Linked DNA regions of Homo sapiens: all the other regions are linked to region 1. Evidence: fine-mapped expression QTL. A gene starts in region 1. Each other region holds a variant in brackets. All regions are shown on one strand. Distances are between the middles of the regions. Region 1 holds the start of ADCY9 (adenylate cyclase 9). Region 2 overlaps ADCY9 (adenylate cyclase 9). Region 3 overlaps ADCY9 (adenylate cyclase 9). Region 4 overlaps LOC105371062 (a long non-coding RNA gene).

Region 1 (2,684 bases):
GCGGCTGGAGGCCCTCTCGAACAGCTGGGGCAGCTTCTTCTGCCTGCGCAGCCGGCCTCCGCCGCCCACTCGCCGGGGGACGCCCCCGGAGTCCCCAGAGCTGCTGCAGCTAGAGGAGATGCTGTATTTGCAGTGCTTGGGGTGGCTGTTGGAGGACAGCTGCTTGGGGTTGATCTTGACGCGCACGCTGTTGCTGTCCCCGCTGGAGTCGCAGCTCACCTCGGTGCTGTGGTGATGCAGCAGCTGCTGGTGGGGTGGGGAAGCCATGTTGTCGAGTCCCGGGGCCTGCCCCGGCCGGGGTCACCAGTACCTGCCAGCAAAACGGGGAGAGTTAGCGGCGCTCCCACCTAGGCATGCACGCCTAGAGGCCCGGGACCTGCTCCTGTCCTAAGGGGCGGCTCCAGCACGCGACCTGGACAGGCACCATCTGTTCCTGTGGTTCCCGGCTCAGCGGTGCTCCCACCGCCCCCACCGCCCCCACCTTCGAGGCGCACGAGAACCGCTCGGGACGGACCTAGAACGCCCGGGGGTCCCCGCCGCGTGGCCGCCGTGGCTCCGGGACCGCTTTGCTCGCTCGCCTTCCGCGCCTCTCGCCCCGAGGGTGGCCTCCGCGCCGCGCGGCTTCTCCTCCTCGCGCGCTCGCCTCCTCCAGCTGCGGCTCCGGAGGGAAGTTCAGACCTTGAGCGCTCCCAGCCCCGCGAGCCGCCTGCGCACAAACAACTCCGCTGGCGGCGCGGAGCCCTCCATCCTGCAGGAGCCGCGCTCCGATGCGTCAAAGGCGGCGCGCGGCCGGCCCCGGGCCCGGACCCCGACCCGGAGCAGCGAGCTTCGGCGGGCGCCCCCGGCTCGCGCTCCCCGGCCGCCCCCCGCGCTCCGGGCCGGCCCTGCCCGCGGCGGCGGGCGCTGGGGGTGGGGGCGCCCCGGGCTGCGAGTGCGCGGAGCCCGTCGGCGCGGCCCGTCTAGTGGGGCCTGCTTCCCCCCGAGTGCGCCGCCGCTCCCGCCGCGGCCGCAGCTGTCCCGGGACCGAGCGCGTGGAACCACGGACGCGGGCCCCTCGCCGGGCGGCGGTGCAGACGCTGCCGCAGAGCCGGGCTCCCGCGACGCCGGCCGGGACGCCCGCCCGCCCGCGCCCACGCCGGGGGCCGCCTCCCCGAGCTAGAGATGCGGCCGCCGCCGCGCCCGCCGCCGTGTCCCCCGCGGCCGCTGCCTCATGTCGGAAGAGCTGCCGCCGCCACCATCTCCGGCCCCTGCCCCGCCCGCTGTCACTGACAGACGCGCGCCCGCGCCGCCCCTCGCCCAGCCGCAGCGCGCACGCGCGGCCCGCGCTCGCCGCCACCGCCTCCTGGCCCCGGACACGCGCACGGGCCGCGCGCCGCCCCGCCTTGGTGCGCGCGCTGGGCTGGGGCTGCGGGGCGGGGCGGGGCGGGGCGGGGCGCGCGCTCGGCTCCGCCCCCCGCCCCGGGCGGCGCCGCTTCTAGGCGGCGGGCTGTGGCCGCTGTCCGCGCTCCGGGCGCTGTGGGCCCGCCCTCCCTCGGCGTCCCAGAGGCCGCGCGCCGCCCGGGGTCCCGACCCTGCGGAGAGACCTGAAGGCGCCTGCCGTGGAAGAAGCCGCTGGCCGCAACGTTTGGGAAATCAAAATGTTGCCTTCCCACTCGGCACGCCTTTGGGATAAATCGAAGTTTCCAACCGTTGGATTTCCCTCCCGGGAGGCTCCCCTTGCTCTGTAAGCAATGAATGCGGGCCCCGGGGCACTCGGCCTGCCCTGGACCTGCTCACGGGGCGACCTTCACGGGCCTAGCCTCCAAAGCTGGGCCCACCGACGACCACGTTCCCCCGCCCCAGGGGTAGTTTACCTTGCTGTCCTTGAGCCCTTCTCCCCCTCCTCATGAACTACTGCTTTTCCTTTTACACAAATGAGACTTTCAAAGGAGTCCGCGTCCCATAATGGCAGTTGTGCATTGGCCTCCATAAACATTGCCACGTGTAAATAAAATCCTATTCTCTCTAGCATGCAGATCCCGACCCCTTCTCCCCACACTCCACAGTGCCTCCTGCCAGTCACGGGGCTCTCTTCCATCCCCTCCCTCGCCTCCCAGGCCCAGCGCCGGGGCCCACACCAGGTCTCACTGTTGAATTAGAAAATAAAAGTAAAATGTGATCTGTCCATGCAATGGAATATTATTCGGCTACAAAAAGGAATGGAGCACCGATGCATGCTGCAGTGTGGAGGAACCCGGGAAACGTTATGCTAGTGAAAGAAGCCAAACAAAAAAGGCCACATAGCGTATGATTCCATCCAGATGAAATGTCTCGAATTGGCAAATCCGTAGAGGCGACACAGATTGGAGGTTGCCAGGTGCTAGGGGAGGAAGATAAGCAGCTTGGGGTTTCGTTTTAGGATGATGAAAAAGTCTAGAAATGATCCAACAGGATGAATCTACATACTGCCCTTGAATCATACACTTTAAAGTGGTTTAGGCCGGGAGCGGTGGCTCACGCCTGTAATCCCAGCACTTTGGGAGGCCGAGGTGGGCGGATCACCTGAGGTCGGGAGTTCGAGACCAGCCTGACCAACACGGAGAAACCCCATCTCTACTAAAAATACAAAAATTAGCCGGACGTGGTGGCACATGCCTGTAATCCCAGCTACTCGAGAGGCCGAGGCAGGAGAATTGCTTGAACCC
Region 2 (2,684 bases), 110 kb before region 1:
CTGAGAACACAAAGCAGCATAGGAGAGCTGTTTTGATTCTCTGTCTCATTTTAAGAATGGAGACAGTAGATGTTTAAACTATAAAAATAAACAGAAGGTACCAGTGGGGAAACTAAATCAAATGTGAAAGCAAAGGAACAGCTCATAAACTGAAATGATTTCACACACCCAAGGTCGACCGCGCCAATTCCCTGGTAGTTTATGATGACAGGTCAGTCCAGAAACGGGCACTTCTAGGCAGCTACCAGGAGATCCCGGTTCCAATAATGAAATACTACAATGTTCTCGGCAGCCTGTCCTCTCAGTGAGCTGTGTCCTAGGATTCACCCACACCAACATCATTTCAAGTAATCATAAAATAGTGGATTTCAAGAGACGTAGAAGTATTTGAGAAAGTGGTCTCTGAAATCAGATTATCAACTAGCTCTCCACCCAAGGTGCCAAGGAAAGCCACCTTTACTGTCATTTATCACCAGCTTCTAGAAATCCCAAAAGGCACCACAGGTCCCAGGAAGAGAAAATAACTAATAATTCAAATGAGAAGCATCCTTGTGCAATGGAAAGGCAATGGAGGTGCGTCATATGTCAAAAAGCAAGGATGTTAAAAATGCAGAATGCTACTAACTTTAGACTAAATATTAAAATCGTGAAAACCAAATCGAAGGTCATTCCAAGTTGTTTGCCTCAGACCTGGAGGCTGCTTATTATTTCACGTGCTCTACTGCAGAATTAATAGAAAGTTTTAGAAGTAGGAAAAAAAAAACAAAAAAACTAACCTTAAGGTTATCAAAGGTTTTGACAGTCTGCGCCAAGTCACTGACATTCCCTGATGACGCTGTCCCCTGTCCCCTAGGGCCTGAGGACACCTGTGAGCCGTCAATGACCTCAAAGCCAGAAAGCAAGGCCTCTGCACAGCTGCAGCGAGACTCCTTGGCTCTCTGACCCGATATCAGGTATGTCTTCAAACCTATGATGGATAAAAGTTACAGTCAGCACAGATTGAAAGCACCGTCTGTTGAAACGCAGCTCCGTCTTGCTCTCTGGAGAGGACTCACTCCTGGAAAGTTGAGAGTAAAGTGAAAATGTGAATAGGTCATAGTTTACGACGGACGTC[C/T]ACGATCTCTCCAGAGAGATGCGGCCTCAGGGAGACCGTGGGCCCCCGAGACACACCACTCACCCACGTTACGTTTTCTTGGAGTAATGGCTGCATGTTTCATGTTTTACCTTCAGGGTTAAAATAAGCATTAAAAAGTTCCTCCATGAAAGGGTCCCAGGACCTCCCCGTGAAGGCAGCAAAGCAGATTGGTTGACCCTAGACACTGCTTTGGTTTATTTCCATCTGTGAATACCAGTCCAGTGAGTACCTTCCTAACGGTCAGTCTAGACGTCATGGCAGCTTCCGGTACTGACCATCTTACCTGTGTCAGAGGCTGCAAAACTACCCCGAAAAACAAGACCCTACCAGGGACCAAGAGGCCATTAAAACCTCCCCAGACTCAGAGCTGTTGAGCATCTATTTCCTGTTGGATTCAAACACTCACCCCAGGAACATTCAGCTTTTGTTAAGCTGAGGTCCACATGCATTTTATTGTCTCACAAAATCCCGCATATAGAAAAAAAAAAAAAAGGTGGTCAAAAGGACACTTGACCTGTATCTTTACAATTCTCCTTTGAGGCTGAGCTAACAGCCGGACCCACACTGCGCTGGAAGGAGCTGTGAACAGGTGGGTGGATCCTGCCCCGGGAATCTGCTGGGAAGATGGCAAAGGAGCAGCTTTTCTAGAAAGAGCCCAAGGAATTTTTGAAAAAGAAGCAAACTTTATTTAAAGAAATCCATCCTTTGACTTCACTGGAATTTAACCAGATGGCAAATGTATCGGAAGGAGGGACAATGTAATTTAACATTTAAATAACATTTATTTCAGGCCTAGTGTATGCCACACACCGAGAATAAAATCATGAACAAAGCAGGGTCCCTTCTTTTTTTTTTTTTTAATTGAGATGGAGTCTCACTCTCTCACCCAGGATGGAGTGCAATGGTGCGATCTCAGCTCACTGCAGCCTCCACCTCCTGGGTTCAAGCAATTCTCCTGACTCAGCCTGTGAGCAGGCAGGTGTCCACCACCACGCCTGGCTAATTTTTGTATTTTTAGTAGAGACAGGGTTTCTCCATGTCGGCCAGACTGGCCTAGAACTCCTAGTGATCTGCCCACCTTGGCCTCCCAAAGATGACAGGTGTGAGCCACTGCACCCGGTCGCAGGGACCCTTCTTGAAGGGTTTAAGCTCCAGCTTCAGGTCGTGAAGGGTGTGGCATGGAAAGATGCCATCGAGAGGCGACGTGTCTACAACACTGATCGACTCTGGCTTCTTACGCTGGGTACATATTTGGTCAGCGCTTTAAAATTAATTAATCAGAAACCTAGGGACTACTTCATCAATAATCCCGAATCATTTTATAAGTATGGCCCCATCTCATCACTTCACCTCCCTCTCTCCTTGTAAAAATACTACGTGGCTAATCTTTTTAAGTCAACTGTTCTGAGAATTTGCCAAGAGTCCTAGAAACACGTAAAGACAGCCTAGAACGTAGCCAGGTCATAGCTGAGAATCAAAAGACTTAGATATTTTTAGATGCCAACTGGCCCCAAGAAACTCTTCATGTTTTGTTTTGTTTTGTTTTGTT
Region 3 (2,684 bases), 150 kb before region 1:
CTCTCTGAAGCAGTGCTCATCTTTTCAATAAGAAAACACCAGGCATCATATATTTAAATTTTAGAATATTTTAATGTCCATTTCTTCAGTGAATGCATTTTGAAATTATTAGAATTAACAATTTAAAAAGAGCAGATAAAAGGATATATGGAAAATGCAAACAGTCGGTTCTTGCTAATTCAATTTCAGATTCTAGGCATGATGTGATTTTCCAAACAACCAATTAAAAAAAACTCCTTACCTCGAAAATCTAGAAATTCAAATGCAGACGTGTCTTTGGAAACTACAAATGATTACAGCCCATGTGACAGGAAGCACGCGGCCTTCGGCTCTCCGGATCGTGTGCAAATGTGCAGGGGGAGCCCCCGCGGGTGACGTCAGTGTGGATGAAGTCACGGGTGTGGCAGAGCCTGTGGGGCTCTCAAGCTATTCGAGGGTTTTGTAACTGATGCTCTACATTTGTTTGCATTGGATAAAATTGTGTGTGCTTGTTTACCATATATATATATATATATATATATATATATATATATATATATATATGGATATATAATTCGATCTGAGCTGGGACTGAGAAGAAAATAGCAATTGCAACTCAAAGCAACTATTTACACACATTCAATGCTGAAGTATTGCTTCCTGCCCTAAGTTCCTAAGAGGTATTGCCACCCTGAAGCACGACCCATGCCGTCAGCAGCCCTCGTGCCAGCTGCTTAGAAACTCGTGTCTCCAGCACGATGTGCTCGCTGCCAACAGACAAGAGATGCACGGCGTTTCCGCTGCAGAGATTCTGTGGTTCTGCACTGAGGTATGCATCGGAGCAGGGGACGGGGAGGACCCGAGGGGCTTCGTGGCCCAGAGAGAACGTCTGCACTGGCTGTTTAGGAAGGCTCAGGGTGTTTGAAAGACAACGTTAAGCTCTGGGTGAGTCTGCACGGGGCTGAACCAGACTCCACTTTGCAGCTCCTTGGTTTCCCGGGGTGAGGAATCACAAACACCTTTGTGGTTGGGGAAGGAAATGGGCTTGATGGGGAAGAAGTGTGTGCGGAGAACTTTGCGGAGCATGTTCTGAGCGAGACAGCAAGGTCGTGAGCAAACGCCCAGCCCCTCAAAGCTACACAGCCTGGAGGGGAAAGGGGAGGGGAGGACATTCAAATATACACCTTAATACTGATGCAGAAAGAGCTTCATGTGACCACAATCCCCACGAACAAGGAAAGCATCAGGTAGTGTTTTTTAAGGAAAAAAAAAAATCTGCGGTGTTTTATAATACATTCTTTAGAAGCAAGAGGTATTGTCACAACCACCCTTTCTTCGGTATTGGAAGACCAGCAAACTGACAGTCACACCTGACAGGAAACCTTACAGCTAATGGGGGGAGGTGCCCTGGACTCTCAGGACGCCGGGACCCTGGCTCTGGCTGTCCTGATGGGTGGCCATCCCAGGCACCGCCCCTGGAGAGGTGGCGGGTCAGAATTGTGACTTCTTCATGCCGGGGAGGGCAATCTGTATGTCTCTGGGGAGGAGTAGTGATGATGGGGACTGATGCGGTGTGAAAACGAGACAGTGAGATTTGACAGCGGAAAGCAAAATGCACAGGGACAACGGGCAAGACTGACAAGGAGTGCACCCTGGGCCTCATCAGCGTCCCGGGGTCCCCTGAAAGACTGGCTACAACTC[C/G]GACCGGACAACTCGGGCGAGCTCACTTCCACACAAACTTCAGACTCAATATGGCAAAACATAATCAGACAGGACCAGCAGCCAACTGCCCGGACGGAGCTCCCCCACACCACCCTCGGGATTCCGCCCCTAACAAACCCCGCGTTTGCATCCAGATGCCTCTGTCCCTAGATACGGTGTGAGAACTCCATTTCAGAGCTGGAATTTGCTCCCCAGATTAAATCCTGCCACTGATAGGCCCTGTGCCATCTGAGAGCGGGAGGCAGCCAAGAAACTTCTGGAATTTGTGGAAGCCAAGATGGCACCGGTGCTGCCGGCACAGACCCCCGTGGTTCTGAGCTGGACCCCGGCAGGGAGGAGCCCCCGTGGGTGGCAGGGGCAGCTGGTGGGCTTCTCCTATTCCCCTAGCCTCAGAATTGCACTGGCCATGCTTTGAGGTCCCACTCAGACCCCTCTTGGGGTGGGGAGGTTGGGGGCGGCCCCAGGTGGCCAAAACACAAAAGAGACATCTGGTTACCTTCCTGGGAACTGCCCTCCCCTGTGGCTATGACCCCCCACCCTGAGGACCCAGCACCCCTCCCGGGAGCGCACATGCTTCCGGGTAAATAAATAAATAAATAAATGCAACCTCGGATGTTTATTTGGTATTTCCCTCTCCGATGAGTCAGCTTCCAGGACCAACACCTCCACTCCCGATGGGGAGACCCCTGGGTGGAGGGTCGGGGGTGAGAGGCGGCTCTGAGACCCCCGAGGCCTGGGCACACGGGCGTCGTGCCCGGCTGGCATTTGCTGTCTTGGCCTGCATGCATGTGGGCGAGCCCCTAAACCCGCTCAGTGCAGGGAGCGCGGCTCACCCACAGCCCACGGGGCGCGGTGCTCGGGAAAGTGCGGGTGGGCAATGGGGGGTGGCGGAGCTGTCGTGACATGCCCCCTTCGCACCCCCTCTTGGCGGATTACTGGCACTTTATATCAGATTCATGAATGCAAGTGTGTGTGCGCATGTG
Region 4 (2,684 bases), 65 kb after region 1:
TGACGCTGTATATCTTTCATTTGCCTCTTCAGGTACATTTCTCCTTTTCCATGCTGCACTGCACCCTGGAATTGGCCTGTATGCGCTGCATCGAGATGCTCTTGCCCTCTGACTGCCAGCTGGGTTTGGTCCATGTGGAGCCTGGAATCAAAACCAGAGGGAGAAGGTGGGGACAGGGTTTATGGTTTTTATTCCTCCAAGTCCCTTTTTGAGCTCCTTGACTTAAAGTCCCAGCTCTAGTGAGATCGCCCTCCACACAACCTGCCTCCAGGTGCAGAGGTGGTAAGATCCCACTGTCACCAGCCCCAGAATATTCCACATTCCATAGCAGTTTCCCTATATCCTGCCTCAAAGCCCCCACTTTAAATGTCCCCAATTTAATCTGTTTTCTGCTGGATCCTGACTAATACAAAGAGTGTAGAGAACAAGGGCAGGCCTGGGAATCGGGAGACCTGAATTTAAGTCTCATCTTTGCCACCAGCTCCCTCCGTGACCCTGGGCCACATTTTTCCATTTCCAGGCCTCAAACTTCCTCAATTTTAAAATGAGTGGGTTGGGTCCGGACACAGGGCCTCATGCTTGTAATCCCAGCCCTTTGGGAGGCGGAGACAGGGGTATTGCTTGAGGCCAGGAGTTTAAGTCTGGACAACATCGTGAGACCCTGTCTCTAAAAAAAAATATATATATCTATATATATAGATATATAATAGACATATATAGTATCTATATAGATATATAGACACATATATAGTGTATATAAAGATATATAGACATATATAGATATATATAGACATATATAGACATATATATAGACCTATATAGACTATATATAGACATATATATAGACCTATATATATAGACTATATATATAGACATATATATAGGCCTATACATAGACTATATATATAGACCTATACATATAGACACAGACTATATATATAGACCTATATATAGACATACAGACTATATATAGACATATATAAGACCTATATATAGACATATATAAGACCTATATATAGACATATATAAGACCTATATATATAGACATATATAGACCTATATATATAGACATATATATAGACCTATAT[G/A]CATATAGACATATATATACCTATATATAGACCAATATAGACCTATATATATAGACCAATATAGACCTATATATATATAGACCTATATATATAGACCTATATATATATAGACATATATATAGACACACATACACACACACAAATGAGTAGGCTGGACTATATGGCTCTTTCATGATCCAATTCCCTGCCACTTCTAGGTGTTAAGTTACAGGAGGAGGACACAGATGAGAATAAAAGCTCCCTAGTGAATACGGCAATGATGGCCAGGTTGGCCACTAAGCAGCTCTCCCCACTCTCCACCATTGTATCAGCTCATTCTTACCCAGAAGTCACCTAACTCCTTTCCAAGGACTTTCCTTCTCTTCTCAGGCCATCAGGGTACCAGATGTCTAAATGATCTCCACTCCAAAGCAACAGCCAAGAAAACCCAGGAAATTAAAAATAAATTCCTTTTTCCTTTCAGTAACTCCCTGCCCAGCCCTGGGTTAGCTGGAGAGGTCCCTTCCCAGGTTCCAGTATACCCAGGGGGCCAAACAGGGAAGCCGTTCCACACTGACACCAAAACACTCTCACAGGGAGTGATCTATCTCTGCCCTGGGAAATGCTGGGGACACAGCTGGCTTGCAGGGCAGAGGGAGTGACCTAAACCAGCATCCTGTCAGAAGACATGCAATGCCCTGCATTGAGATCCCTGTCACTGGGCAGGTTTCAAAGAGAGGCCAGGCAGGGTGCGGTTGCTCCTACCTGTAATCCCAGCACAGAGGCTGCAGCGGGAGAATCGCTTGAGATAAGACGTTTGAGACCAGCCTGGCGACAGAGCGAGAAGCCCAATTTATTTTATTTTATTTTTGAGACGGAGTTTCACTCTTGTTGCCCAAGCTGGAGTGTAGTAGCACGATCTGGGCTCACTGCAACCTCCACCTCCTGGGTTCAAGCGATCCTCCTGCCTCAGCCTCCTGAGTAGCTGGAATCACAGGCCTGTGCCTCCACACCCGGCTAATTTTGTATTTTTAGTAGACGGGTTTTACCATGTTGGTCAGACTGGTCTCGAACTCCCAATCTCAAGTGATCCACCTGCCTTCGCCTCCCTAAGTACTGGGATTACAGGCGTAAGCCACAGCGCCCGGTAAACTTTTTTTTGTTCGTTTTTGTGTTTAAGACAGAGTCTGGCCTTGTCAGGCAGGCTGGAGTGCAGTGGCTTGATCTCGGCTCACTGCAACCTCTGCCTCCCAGCTTCAAGCAATCCTCCTGCCTCAGCCTCCCGAGTAGCTGGGACTACAGGCGCCCGCCACCACGCCGGCTAATTTTTGTATTTTTAGTAGAGGGTTTCACCATATTGCCCAGGCTGGTCTGGAACTCCTGACTTTGTGATCCGCCCGCCTCAGCGTCTCAAAGCGCTGAGATTACAGGCTTGAGCCACCGCGCACGGCGTTAGCAAAAATTCTTTCAAATAAAAAATTAGCCAGGTGTAATGATGCACACCTGTAGTCCCAGCTACTGGGAAGGCTGCGGCAGGAGGATCGCTCGAGCCTGGGAGTTTTGAGATTGCAGTGAGCTGAGATCAGGCTACTGCACTCCAGCCCGGGCGACAGAGCG

The links.
Region 2: its variant is fine-mapped to the expression of ADCY9 in whole blood (TOPMed, PIP above 0.99). The same link has a PIP of 0.9 or more in blood mononuclear cells.
Region 3: its variant is fine-mapped to the expression of ADCY9 in whole blood (INTERVAL, PIP above 0.99).
Region 4: its variant is fine-mapped to the expression of ADCY9 in whole blood (INTERVAL, PIP above 0.99).

What each region holds. Positions count from the first base shown.
Region 1 is chr16:4,115,176-4,117,859 of GRCh38, forward strand. It overlaps ADCY9 (adenylate cyclase 9), which reads right to left and starts at 1,267. Exons shown (of 11, transcript NM_001116.4): 1 at 515-1,267; 2 at 1-310. The coding sequence starts at 267. RefSeq lists a silencer at 1,405-1,474.
Region 2 is chr16:4,006,592-4,009,275 of GRCh38, forward strand. ADCY9 (adenylate cyclase 9) reads right to left here. Exons shown (of 11, transcript NM_001116.4): 3 at 777-967. Among named protein-coding and RNA genes, the nearest start is that of TRIDDENT, 57 kb to the left of the region's middle. The variant C/T (reference allele first, on the strand shown) is at 1,115.
Region 3 is chr16:3,962,601-3,965,284 of GRCh38, forward strand. ADCY9 (adenylate cyclase 9) reads right to left here. Exons shown (of 11, transcript NM_001116.4): 11 at 53-2,684. Among named protein-coding and RNA genes, the nearest start is that of TRIDDENT, 13 kb to the left of the region's middle. The variant C/G (reference allele first, on the strand shown) is at 1,681.
Region 4 is chr16:4,180,171-4,182,854 of GRCh38, forward strand. It overlaps LOC105371062 (a long non-coding RNA gene), which reads right to left. Exons shown (of 2, transcript NR_188654.1): 2 at 1-141. Among named protein-coding and RNA genes, the nearest start is that of SRL, 61 kb to the right of the region's middle. The variant G/A (reference allele first, on the strand shown) is at 1,089.